2 linked regions of the Homo sapiens genome follow. The protein of the gene in region 2 purifies or fractionates together with the protein of the main gene of each other region. This does not show direct contact. Each region holds a gene or a part of one and is shown on either strand. Other genes may lie near its edges.

Region 1 (7,029 bases), on a different chromosome or scaffold from region 2:
AGGTTTTTGGTATTACGAATAAAGTTATTGTGAACATTTGTGTAAGATGTTTTGTGAATTTAATTTTCATTTCTCTGGGATAAATGCCCAAGTGTACAGTTACTGGGTTCTATGGTAATTTCATGTTTAGTTTGATGAGAAACAGAAACTGTCAAACTGTTTTCCAAAGTGGCTGTGATATTTACATTCCCACTAACAATGTATGAACCATTCAGAGTCTGTGCATCCTCACCAACATTTTGTGTTGTCACTGTTTTTAGTTAACTATTCAGATAGGTATGTAGTATAAGACTCCTTTTCATGACTAAGTTTGCCTATATTCTGATTTAGGAGGACTTTGTTTGTACTATCTAGTCACCTTACTCCTGCATATCCCTAGGAACTAGAGGCTGCTATCCAGCCAGATACTAGCCTGGTGTCAGTCATGACTGTGAACAATGAGATTGGAGTGAAGCAGCCTATTGCAGAAATAGGTGAGTATCATGGCTTATCCCTGATCCCTGCCCACCATGGGGCTCTGTATGAGGTAGTATACTGAGAGCTGTAATACTCTATGGAGTGTAGTTAGGAAATCAAGGGAAAGCCTAAGTACTTTGTTCAAGGACATTGGAAGTGTCATAGGCAGTATTTGAATCCAGGTCTATTACCATTTTTTTTTTCATTGAGACAGAGTATCACTCTGTCACCTAGGCTGGAGTGCAGTGGTGTGATCTCAGCTCCCTGCAACCTCCTCACTCTGGGTTCAAATGATCCTACCGCCTCAGCCTCTTGAGTAGCTGGGACTACAGGTGTGTACCACTATGCCTGGCTAATTTTTGTATTTTTAGTAGAGATGAGGTTTTGCCATGTTGGCCAGGCTGGTCTTGAACTCCTAACCTCAGGTGATCCGTCTGCCTTGGCCTCCCAAAGTGCTGGGATTACAGGCGTGAGCCACTGCTCCCGGCCAGGTCTAGCACCTTTTATGGTTTTTAATTTTATTGCAGTTGCTGCCAAAACCAACCACAAAACAAAAAAGCCTGCTACTCTTTTTCCTTTTAGAACATCTCTATTCTCCCCACATAGAGATCGCCCTGTAATTTCTTTAGGCACATTAGCACAAAGATCTGTTAATCTTGTTTTTTTTTTTTTATTTTGTTTTGTTTGTTTTTTAATCAAAAGGGATCTAGAAAGTAATCTGACATTTTGAAAGGCTGGTGTTAATGAGGTGGTGAGAATTGTATGCATAAGAATATCACGAGTGTTTCGATCTGGTGCTTTGCCCTTCATCTTTTTTATTCTAAAGAAGGGAAGCTACTGAGACACAGAGAGGGAGGAAGGGGGAAGGGGGAGGAGGGAAGGAAAAGAGGAAGGAGAAGGGGTAGAAGGAGGGAGGGGAGGAGTTTAATATTTACAGGTCATTTACTATTGGAGATAATTCACAGTGCACTGTGGGACTCTGACAGATGACTTTCCAACATTGTGCTGTGGGTCTTCCCCTCTGTTTCCTCAGGGCGGATTTGCAGTTCCAGAAAGGTATATTTCCATACTGATGCAGCCCAGGCTGTTGGAAAAATCCCACTTGATGTCAATGACATGAAAATTGATCTCATGAGCATTAGTGGTCACAAAATCTACGGTCCCAAAGGTACCAGCCCCTTCTAGAGTTCCTTCTCTCTGTACCTTCCAGCAAGACCTTTGATAGATGTTTGTCACAGTCATTTGGGACTACTGTTGCTCTCAGAGGAAGTTGTACATTCAGAGTCCCTTGTAGAATGCAAATGTCATTTAGCAATAGCCAGAAACACTTGCTTGTTTGTAGACCTTAGCAGTTACTATACATCAGGCCATTCTTTCTTGCTCTCTTTAACAAATCCTTAGCAAGCATGTAGATCTTAATTTGGTTGAGGAAAAATGGGTTTTGTCAAATCAAATTTATCTAGATAGGCCCAGCTATCTTGTTTTCCCCACTATGATGTGCAGAGCAACTATTTGAGTCCCTCATTCCCAGTGTCTTGCTATAGCTCAGGGGAAGATTGCATGGGATTTGACATCTCTTTGTGTTCTTTTTTTTTTTCTTGAGACGGAGTCTCGCTCAGTCGCCCAGGCTGGAGTGCAGTGGCGCCATCTCGGTTCACTGCAAGCTCCACCTCCCTGGTTCACGCCATTCTTCTGCCTCAGCCTGCCGAGTAGCTGGGACTACAGGCGCCTGCCACTACGCCCGGCTAATTTTTTTGTATTTTTAGTAGAGACGGGGTTTCACCATGTTAGCCAGGATGGTCTTGATCTCCTGACCTCGTGATCCGCCCGTCTCGGCCTCCCAAAGTGCTGGGATTATAGATGTGAGCCACCAAGCCCAGCTATCTTTGTGTTTATTCTTAGAAGACTTCATAGTCTGTTATCCTGTTAGTCTCTCAAGGATACATGTTTGTTCCCTATGGTCCTATTGGAATGTGTTCAAGCTTGAGTTATGCCTCTTTCCCTTAACCCTTGGGAATAGACTGTTGTCCTCTGTTTTGTGAAGGTAACCATAAAATATAAATATAAAATATAACTCCTCTTTCTCAAGTGAGGGCCTTTTTTGGGTTGATGTCTGTGCTGGTACCCTTTTTATGTCTGCAGGGTGTGTTATCTGGGTGTATACCTTGTGGAAGTAGGTGTAATAGCTTCTGGAATTATGGAAGATGGCGTCTTCTAAGGGTTCCCAGAGGTTGTAGAGTGTTTTTTGTGAGTTATTATTTCAAAAAGCCCAGTAAGCGTTCTGTCTTTTAATAAAATGTTGCTTTTATTGGCTTTTATTGTAGATAAGTCTTTTTGATAAAAACCAATGAACTCAGGCTGGATACCCCATTCTTCATCATGTGCCTATTTCACATTATATGCCTGTATTAAAACATCTCATGGGCTGGGCACGGTGGCTTACACCTGTAATCCCAGCACTTTGGGAAGCCAAGGCGGGCGGATCACGAGGTCAGGAGTTCAAGACCAGCCTGATCAACATGGTGAACCCCCGTCTCTACTAAAAATAAAAAAATTAGCCGGGTGTGGTGGCATGTGCCTTTAATCCCAGCTACTCAGGAGACTGAGGCAGGAGAATCGTTTGAACCCAGGAGCCAGAGGTTGCAGTGAGCCGAGATCACACCACTGCCTGGGCGACAGGCGAGACTCCCTCTCAAAAACAAAAAAAATCTCATGAACTCCATAATATATATACCTCCTGTGTACTCACAAAAATTTTAAAAACAAAAAACCAATGAACTCATTGATCAGAAGCTCTGATCAACACTTACATGTGTACAGGTGTCCCTCATTATCCAACCTCCTGCTTTCCAAGTCCAGAATCTAAATAGATTTAGATAATGTGGCATTCTTCACTGTTCAGACATGGTATTTGAGCACTTGCTGTTTGAATTTGGGAACTGTTTAGACTCAGATAGTATAAGATTCTTGAATTTTTTTAAATGGAGAAATGAAATAATTCTTAATAAATACAGTTTAATACATTATTTTATTCATTTGTTTTATAGGGACAAGGTCTCACTCTGTTGCTCAGGCTGGAGTGCAGTGGTGCTATCCTACCTTGCCACAGCTTCAATCTCCTGGGCTCAAGCAACCCTCCTACCCCAGCCTCACCAGTAACTAGCACTACAGGTGTGCACCAACACGCCTAATTTTTTTTTTTGAGACAAAGTCTTACTCTGACGCCCAGGCTGGAGTGCAGTGGTGTGATCTCGGCTCGCTGCAACCTCTGCCTCCCAGGTTGAAGGGATTCTCCTCTCTCATCCTCCTGAGTAGCTGGGATTATAGGCCCACTGTGCCCGGCCATGCCTGGCTAATTTTTTTTTTTTTTTTTTTTGAGACAAAGTCTCGCTCTTGTCCCCCAGGCTGGAGTGCAATGGTGAGATCTCGGCTCACTGCAACCTCCGCCTCCCGGGTTCAAGCGATTCTCCTGCCTCAGCCTCCCAAGTAGCTGGGATTACAGGTGCCTGCCACCACGCCTGGCTAATTTTTGTATTTTATTTTATTTTTTGAGACGGAGTCTCGCTCTGTCACCCAGCCTGGAGTACAGTGGCGTGATCTTGGCTCACTGCAAGCTCCGCCTCCAGGGTTCACGACATTCTCCTGCCTCAGCGTCCCAAGCAGCTGGGACTACAGGCGCTTGCCACCACGCCCGGCTAATTTTTTTTTTTTTGTATTTTTGTAGAGACGGGGTTTCACTGTGTTAGCCAGGATGGTTTTGATCTCCTGACCTCATGATCTGCCCGCCTCGGCCTCCCAAGGTGCTGGGAATACAGGTGTGAGCCACCACACCCGGCCTAATTTTTGTATTTTTAGTAGAGACAGGGTTTCACTATGTTGGCCAGGCTGGTCTCGAACTCCTGACCTCAGGTGATCCACCCACCCTTGGCCTCCCAAAGTGCCGGAATTACAGGCGTAATCCCGTGCCCGGCCCAATGCCTGGCTAATTTTTAAAACAGTTTTTGTAGAGATAGAGGTTTCACTATGTTACTCAGGCTTGAATTCCTGACCTCAAGCAACCCTCCCGCCTCAGTCTCCCAAAGTGCTGGGATTACAGGCATGACCCACTGCACCCAGCTTATTATTTAAAATCTGGTGTCCTTCATAATCGATTTGGAAACCACTGCCTTAATTTTTATAGTACCTCCATTCTCAGCATAAACAGTTTTTCTGTGTGGGAGAACTGTCAAGTGCCAATTCTATTCAGAAGCCCTGATTACTTGGTGAATAACTTTGCATGCTCATGCTCATATTTTGGCACAAAATTTCTGTAATTCGGCTTGTTTAGTCACAGGTTATACGCATTTTTAAGTTTTTTGTTTTTTTGAGTCAAGGTCTCAGTCTGTTGCCCAGCCTGGAGTGGAGTGAGTGGCACGATCATAGCTCACTGCAGCCTCGACCTCCTAGGCTCAAGTGATCCTCCTGCCTTAGCCTCCAGAGTAGCTGGGACTATAAGTGCATGCCACCATGCCCAGCTAAGTTTTAATTTTTTTTTTTGTAGACACGGGGTCTCACTGTGTTTCTCAGGCTGGTCCCAAACTTCTGGTCTCAAGTGATTCTCCTTCCTTGGCCTCCCAGAATGCTGGGATTGTAGTCATGAGCCACCGTGCTCCACCAAATTGTTTTTAAATTTAAATTTTATTTTGAAAAAGTAATATTCATGTGATTCAAAATTCAAAAGCTACAAAAAAGTGCACAGACAGCCAGGTGCAGTGGCACACGCCTGTAATTGCAGCACTTTGGGAGGCCGAGGCGGGCAGATCATGAGGCCAGGAATTTGAGACCAGCCTGTCCAACATGGTGAAACCCCGTCTGTACTAAAAATACAAAAATTAGCCATGCGTGGTGGCGGGTGCCTGTAATCCCAGCTAATCAGGAGGCTGAGGCAGGTGAATCACTTTAACCGGGAAGGTGGAGGTTGCGGTGAGCTGAGACCGTGCCATTGCACTCCAGTCTGGGCAACAGAGCAAGACTCTTGTCTCAAAAAAAAAGGGAAAAAAAAGGCACAGACAAAAGTCTGCCTCTCACCTCTGACCTCCAGCTATGCAGTTCCCTTCTGGGGAGGTAATTTCTTTCTTGGTTTTTTTTTTTTTTTTTTTTTTTTTTTCTGATTTTCTCTGGTTATTGGGAGGCAATTTCTTGGGTTTTTCTACAATTATCCTATGTGTTTACAAACAAATATATACTTCTCCTCCAGCTTTCTTTTTTATCCAGATGATAGCATACTGTACTCACTGTTTCAATCTTTCATTTTTCACCTAATGGTACATCTTTTTTTTTTTAGACAGAGTCTTGCTCTGTCACTAGGCTGGAGTGCAGTGGCACAATCTTGGCTCACTGCAACCTGTGGCTCCCAAGTTCAGGCGATTCTCCTGCCTCAGCCTCCTGAGTAGCTGGGATTACAGGTGCGTGCCACCACGCCCAGCTAATTTTTGTATTTTTAATAATTACGGGGTTTCACCATGTTGGTCAGGCTGGTCTCGAACTCCTGATTTCATGATCTGTCCGCCTCGGCTGCCCAAAGCACTGGGATTACAGGTGTGAGCCACCGTGTCCAGCCCATAATACATTTTTTTTTTTTAGACGGAGTTTTGCTCTTGTTGCCCAGGCTGGAGTGCAATGGTGCCATCTCAGCTCACTGCAACCTCTGCTTCCCGAGTTCAAGCAATTCTTCTGCCTCAGCCTCCCTAGTAGCTGGGATTACAGGCATGTGCCACCATGCCTGGCTAATTTTGTATTTTTAGTGGAGAAGGGGTTTCTCCATGTTGGTCAGGCTGGTCTCAAACTCCCGAACTCAGGTGATCCACCCACCTCAGCCTCCCAAAGTGCTGGTATTACAGGCGTGAGCCACTGCGCCCGGCCAATACATCTTTGTTTTTTCAAGCTAAAGTACAGACTTTTTTTTGGATTTCACCAGTTTTGTAACAATGTATCTTGGAGATTTTATGGTGTCAGTTCAGAACAAGCTTCTTCTTTTTTTTTTTTTTTTTTTTGGGAGACAGAGTCTTGCTCCATCACTCAGGCTGGAGTGCAGTGGCTTGATCTCAGCTCACTGCAACCTCTACCACCTGGGTTCATCTCATGTCTCAGCCTCCTGAGTAGCTGGGATTACATGTGCCTGCTACCACGCTTGGCTAATCTTTGTATTTTTAGTAGAGAGAGGGTTTCACCATGTTGACCAGGCTGGTTTCTAACTTCTGATCTCAGGTGATCCGCCCGCCTTGACCTCCCACAGTTGGGATTATAGGCGTGAACCACCACACCCGGCCCCCTCATTCTTTTATACACCTGCTTGGTATTTCATTGTATGGACATGCCATAATCTATTTGACCATTACCCTGATGATGGACATCTAAGTTGTTCCCAGTATTTTTGCTATTATGAATAATACTGTAATGTATGATGGCATTTCATATAGCATAGGGAGCTACTTTAAACCATTTTGATCATTACTCCTTCTGGCATTTATCTTCCAGATGTTAAATATTTTACTAAATACTATGCTTTTACTGCTGTTTCTTCTTTTCCTTAAC
Region 2 (7,029 bases):
AAATCCTTTTCCCTCAATCTGTCCCCAGCGAGAATCTCCCTCAGCCTCATTCCTGCCCCTCATTTTCTCAGAGGTTAACATTTAACAAATTACACTCCCAACCTCTTTCCAGGCCCATCATCTTTTTAAGTTCAACAAGAGTGGAGCTTGCTGGCTAATTTTAAGTATCACATTTCTCCCTGAGCTCCTCTCAAACTGCTCTCTGGTTTCGGCTGCAGAATGTTAACAGGCCAGAAAACACAGGGGAGACAGAGCACTTTATCAGTTTCATACCTAAAATAATAAGCAAGTTTAAAATAAACAGTTGAGAGAGATTGAATGGCACGCTCTACTGTCAGCAAAGGCAGAAATGCCCCAGCCCAAAGGTTGACAAGTGACGGGAACAGTCTTCTAGTTTCACACTGGATCTCATCTCTGAACTCGGTAATGTTTCTGATAGTGTTTATAAGTGGAGCTGTATTTTTCACTTGGTTTTCTTAAGAGCGAAATATTTCTAGTTTTCTTATGAACTATCCTAATCAAGATGTGAGTAGAAGCAGCCCAAGCTCCCACAGGTACCTTAAGAGAGGGGTCCCAGGTTTGACTTTAGGATGATGACAATTTGCAAAAGCCTAATTTAACAGCAACTGGATTTTTCCTGCCTGCTTGCACCATCAGCTGACAACTCACTTCTCCATCACATCTGCAAACAGTTGGCCTAGACAGTTCTGACATTTCCCACTTAGAAAAGCCACTTTCAGGAAGTTATTAACCCAAACGGAATCTTCCTGGTCAAGCTCAGGGGTATAGAAATGCCTCACGTGGGCAGGTCTGTATTCATTTGGTTCCCAGTAAGGGATAAGAACTGCCAAACAGGACAAATTGGAAAAATCGGACCAAAGATGTCAGTTACTATGAGACTAAATACCTAGATGTGTTTATAGTACATTCATAATAAAAATCTCATTTTTCTGAGAGTCTAATTCCATGATAGCAAAGACAATACCTATTTTTGTTTACTACTATGCACTAGCACAATGCCTAGTTCCAAAGTAGACAAAAATTTGCAGCATGGATAAATAAATGTAGTGTTAACTATGCGCCAGGCACTATGCTAGAACCATAATACGTTACCTCATTTATTTTAACTACCACCCCAAAGCTGTAAGTTAAGAATCAAACAAGAAAACCGAGGACCAGAAAAGCAAAGTAACTGCCCATGGCCACCAGTTAGTAAATGGCAAAGCTGGGACTAAAACTCAACTCTGCCAAACCCATGCTCTTTCCATTACATCCCTCCCCAGAACATTGGTTCAGTCACTAACCTGGTGAGGTCCTTATATTGAGAGTCTTATTGAAATTATCCTTGAGAGCTTCTATCACAGACTTCATTTCTTCATTCACCTCTTCCAAGTTGATTATATCCTCAACCAAGGCAGCATTAATATTCACTCTGGTTTGGGACTGTCCTTTCCCTTTGGCTAAAAAGTGAACATTCAGTGAATAAAACAACAGCAGCATAAACAGAGCCAATAAGCAATTGGTGAAGAAGTACCTACTATGTACAGGGAAAAATGTCAAGTGTTAGAAAATTATAAAACATTATCGCTCCACTAAAAAAGAGCCTATATTAACTGAGTGTCAACTGTGCTAAACACCTTCTCAGATACTAGTGAGGGGGCACACTTTATAATCAGACACCCCAGGTTAGAAGTCTGGCTATAATGCATACTAGCTTTATGACCTTAGGCAAGTTATCTTTCTGAGTATCAAGTTCCCTACCTGTAAAAGAATAGTAACATCTATATTGCAAGGTTGCTACAAGGATACAAATTAAGTCATTCAAACACCTAAAAGAACACTATACACATGGCAGGGAATCCATAACTAAATTAATCCCTTACTTTTCAGAAAAGTAAACAGAAGATGAGAAAGGTAAAGCTATTTGCCTAATGTCACAGGTCAGGAAATGGAAAAGTCAAGATCTGGTTCCAGATCTGCCTAATTTTAAACCCATGAACTTTTCACTAGCCCATCTCCACAAAATCTAATTAGAGAGACAGGAAATACATTAATTCATTAAAAATGGACACTAAGACAAGGATATGCACACAATATCTGATGGCTGGTAGAGTACAGACAAAAGGAACAATAGTAGTTTACAGACATTAAACACTACCAATGGTAGAGACAATGGCTTATATTTTAGAAAATCAACAGCATTGGGAGCTGAATATAATTTCATTTTATGTCTAAATCATCGTAGTGATTTTTCATATACATTCTAGGTGTATACATAGATAATTTCTGTGAGTGATGCAAATATTCTTGCATTTCTTTTATAGGGAATGGGGAAGGAGAAAAACAATAAAATTTTAAACAATATTTACACTGTTTATTCATTAAACATTCAACAAATATTTATTGAGATTCATTAAATAAATTTTGTTGAACATCTACAGTGAACTCAATCCTGTACTATTTGGGTGGCATATTATAACTTGCAATGCAATTTCAAGTACATTCTCCTCCTTGCTATCCAAGATAGCTCTCTGAGGTAGGAAGAATAGTGATTAGTATTGTCCCCATGGTACAGATGAGAAATCTAAGGCACAAGCCATTTAAATGTTTCGTCCAAAGTAAACAACTGGTAAGCAACAGAGTGATTTTTAAAAACATTTATTTGCCCATGTTACCATTATGCTTTGAAACCAATGGCTTAGGTTTTTTTTCAGAACTGATAGAAGATGTGGGGCTGGGCGCAGTGGCTCATGCCTATAATCCCAGCACTTTGTGGGGCCGAGGCAGGCAGATCACGAGGTCAGGAGTTCAAGATCAGCCTGACCAAAATGGTGAAACTCCATCTCTACTAAAATTACAAAAATTAGCTGGGCGTGGTGGCGTGTGCCTGTAATCCCGGCTACTCGGGAGGCTGGGGCAGGAGAATCGCTTGAACCCGGGAGGTGGAGGTTGCAGTGAGCCGAGATCAGTGCCACTGCACTTCAGCCTGGGCGACAGATCAAAGAAAAAAAAAAAAGATGTGGATCTTCGGATTGAGAAACACAAGTTTCAAATAGGACAATAAAAGTAAATTCACACCTAGACATGTTGTGACTGCAGAAAACAAAGGACAAAGAGATCTTTATAAACGCCCAAGAGAAAAGACAAATTATCCATGAAGGATTAAAACTTAGAACACTTTCCAAGAGCAACAACAGAAGCCAGAAGCAACTGAAATAATATCTTCAACTTTGAACTTTTAAAACCAAATATGCACATTAATAATTTAAAGATATGCCTGTCAATATTGGAATGAATAGTAATATTTATGAATGAAATACTATGCAACCATGAGAAAGAATGAACACACACAAAAATTTAAATGAGTCTCACAAACATGATGTTGAACACAGAGGCCAGACACAAGAAAACAAAACTGTACAGTACAAAGGCCAGATATGAGAATATAAACTGAAAAGTAAAAAAAAAGAGAAAACGAATCCATGCTACTAGAAGTCAGAATAATAGTTATCTGCAAAGGGTCAAGGGTAGTACTTACTAGAAAGAAGCACAAAGGGGACTTTTGACATGCTAAGAATGTTCTGTTTTTTTTATCTGGGTGCTGTAAGTGATTTCAGCTTGTGAAATTTATGACAGCTGCACTTTCCTACAGGGTTTTTTTATTTCTATAAAAAGGTTAAAAAATTAGTTAAGGGTAACCATCAAAACAATAATAAATTAAAAGTATATCTTCCAAATCAGCAGAATTTAAAAAAGAGAGAGAGAGGGATAAAGAAATTTAATCTAATGGGAAAAGAAGAAGAAAAAAGGAAAAAAAGGAATATTTCAACACAGCTAAAAGAACTTTAAATGTTCCCAACACATAAAAATGATAAAAGCTTGAGATGCTGGATACCCCATATACCCTAACTTAAATCATTTATGCATGTAACAAAACATCACATATACCCCATAAGTATGTACAAATATGTATCAATAAAAAAAATTTTTAAATATGCATTTAAAAAAAAGAAAAAAGGAAAAAACATGATATAAAGAAAGTCCAAAATAAGGCCAGGCGTGGTGGCTCATGCCTGTAATCCTAGCACTTTGGCAAGCCAAGGCGGGCGGATCACCTGAGGCCAGGAGTTTGAGATCAGCCTAGCCAACAAGGCAAAACACCATCTCTACTAAAAATACAAAAAATTAGCTGGGCATGGTGGCGTATGCCTGTAGTCCCAGCTACTCGGGAGGCTGAGGCACAAGCATCACTTGAACCTGAGAGGCGGAGGTTGCGGTGAGCCGACACTGCACCACTGCATTCCAGCCTGGACGACAGAGTGAGACTCTGTCTCAAAAAAAAGAAAGAAAGTACAAAATAAAATAATAACACAAATATGCAGTGACTACAATAAATATAAATGGATCAAAATGACAAGTTAAAAGTGGGAGATTCTCAGTAAGATTTTTAAAAATCTAGCTGAATATAACATAACGGTTTTTAAAAATTATAAAAGATCACAGAAAGTTTGATGTATAGGGATGGAAAAATTATAAGCCTGGCAAACATCAGTCAAAAGAAGGCTGGTGTAGCTACATTATCATCAAACAAAAAAGATTTTAAGACAAAATTCACTATTGGAAATCATGAAGACAACTTCAAAATGATAATAGAAACAATTCACCAGAAAGATATATAACAATTCTAAGATTAAATATATCAATAAGATAGCCTCAAAATTAATACAATTAAAAGAAGAAACTGGCTGGGTGCAGTGACTTACACTTGTAATCCCAGCACTTTGTGGGGCTGAGGTGGGCAGATTGCTTGATCCCAGCAGTTCAAGACCAGTCTGGGAAACATTGCAAAACCCAGTCCCTACAAAAAATACAAAAATTACCAGGCATGGCCGTGCGTGCCTGTAGTCCCAGCTACTTGGGAGGCTGAGGTAGGAGAATCAGTTGAGCCCAGAAGATTAAGGTTGCAGTGGGCTGTGATTGCACTGCTGCACTACAGCCTGGGCAAGACCCCGTCTCAAAAAACAACAAAAAAGGAGAAACTGATCAATCTACAAGCATACTAGGAGAGTTCAATATACCTTCCTTGATAACCGATAAGTAAGCAAATAAAAAAACAGAAAAGTTGATCAATAAAATTAGTCAATTTGATCTAATACAATACACCCAAGAAAAAAAGAATACACATTATTCTCAAGCACACTTGGACCTTCTATGAAACAACCATGTTTTACACACAAATCAAATCTCAACAAAAATAAAAGAATCTATATCATATAGAACATGCCTTCTGAACAGAGTAGAATTAAGCTAACCCCAAAACAACCATTTGTTTGAAAAACTTTAAACACTTCTTAATAAACACTCATGGGCTATAAAGAAATGCATAATGGAAATGTTTAAATATTGAGAAATGACCATAATAAAAATATTCAATGTCAAAAACTCAAGTCAGACACGATGGCTCAACACCTGTGATCCCAGCGCTCTGGAAGGCCAAGGCGAGAGGATCACTTGAGCCCAGGAGTTCAAGGTTACAGTGAGGTATGATTGTGCCACTGCACTCCAGCCTAGGCAACAAAGCAAGACCTTATCTCTAAAATAAATAAACAACCTTATAGGAAGCATTTAAAGTTGTATTTAGACAGAAACTTCTAACCTTAATACTTTAAAAACAAAACAAAACAAAACAGGCTGGGCGTGGTGACTCATGCCTGTAATTCCAGCACTTTGGGAGCCCAAGGTGGGCGGATCACCCAAGGTCAAAAGTTCGAGACCAGCCTGGCCAACATGGCGAAATCCCATCTCTACTAAAAAAAAAAATACAAAAATTAGCTGGGCGTGGTGGCAAGTGCCTATAGTCCCAGCTACTTGGGAGGCTGAGGCAGGAGAATTGCTTGAACCCAGGAGGACAAGGCTGCAGTGAGCTGAGATCATGCCACTGCACTCCAGTCTGGGTGACAGAGGGAGACTCCATCTCAAAAAAACAATAAGAAATAAAAATAAAGAAGAAAGTATTATGCACAATGGTAAGATATGAAAACAACCAAAGTGTCTGTGGATAGAGAAATGATGTGGGTGCATGTATGGGTGTGTGTGTTTGTGTATAAAGTGGCATATTATTCAACCTTAAAAAACGAGACCTTGCCATTTGCCATGGATGAACCCGGAGGACATTACACTAAGCAAAATAAGCCACACACAGAAAAATACTGCATGATTATACTTGTATGCAGAATCTCAGGGTTGGGGTTTGCTTGTTTGTATTTTAGACAGGGCCTCACTCTGTCACCCAGACTGGAGTGCAGTGGTGCGATCTCAGCTCACTACAGGCCTCAACCTCCCTGGGCTCTGGTGATTCTCCCATCTCAGCATCCTGAATAGCTGGGACTACAGGCGCATGCCACCATGCCTGGCTAATTTTTGTATTTTTTTTGTAGAGAAGAGGTTTCACCACATTGCCCAGACTGATCTTGAACTCCTGGGCTCAAGTGATCCACCCGCCTCGGCCTCCCAAAGTGCTGGAATTATGAGCATGAGCCACCATGCCTAACCACATGCGGAATCTACAAAAAAGATGAATACACACAGAGAATAAAATAATACTTAGCAGGGGTCAGCGGGGTGGGGTGGTGGTGGTGGTGAGGAAATGGAGAGATATAAATCAAAGGATACAAAGTAGTAGATATGTAGGATGAACAAGTCTGGAGATCTAATGTACAATAGGAGGACTATAGTTAGTAATATTGTATTATACTCTGGATTTTTTGCTAAGACAGATTTTATGTGCTTTCGCAAAAAAAAAAAAAAGGAGGTAACTATGTAAGATAATGGATATGTTAATTTGCATGTATGTAACCATATCACTGCATGTATATCAAAGCATCATGTTTATAATAAAATTTTTCAAAGAAAAAAAGAAAACAGGAAAGACCAAAAATTAATGAACTAATTGTCCAACTCAGAGGATAGAAACAGAACAAGTACACAGGAGAAAGTAAATAATAAAGAACAGAAATCATAAAATTGCAA

The links.
Region 1: the proteins of MRRF (region 2) and NFS1 purify together in Homo sapiens (affinity purification with mass spectrometry; 2 studies listed by BioGRID and IntAct, with this or other methods). This does not show direct contact.

What each region holds. Positions count from the first base shown.
Region 1 is NC_000020.11:35,675,332-35,682,360, reverse strand, and holds part of NFS1 (cysteine desulfurase isoform a precursor), read left to right. Parts: intron 1-379; coding exon 380-473; intron 474-1,489; coding exon 1,490-1,624; intron 1,625-7,029.
Region 2 is NC_000009.12:122,274,874-122,281,902, reverse strand, and holds part of MRRF (ribosome-recycling factor, mitochondrial isoform 1 precursor), read right to left. Parts: intron 1,461-7,029; coding exon 1,305-1,460; intron 1-1,304. UniProt on the Homo sapiens protein: Responsible for the disassembly of ribosomes from messenger RNA at the termination of mitochondrial protein biosynthesis. Acts in collaboration with GFM2. Promotes mitochondrial ribosome recycling by dissolution of intersubunit contacts.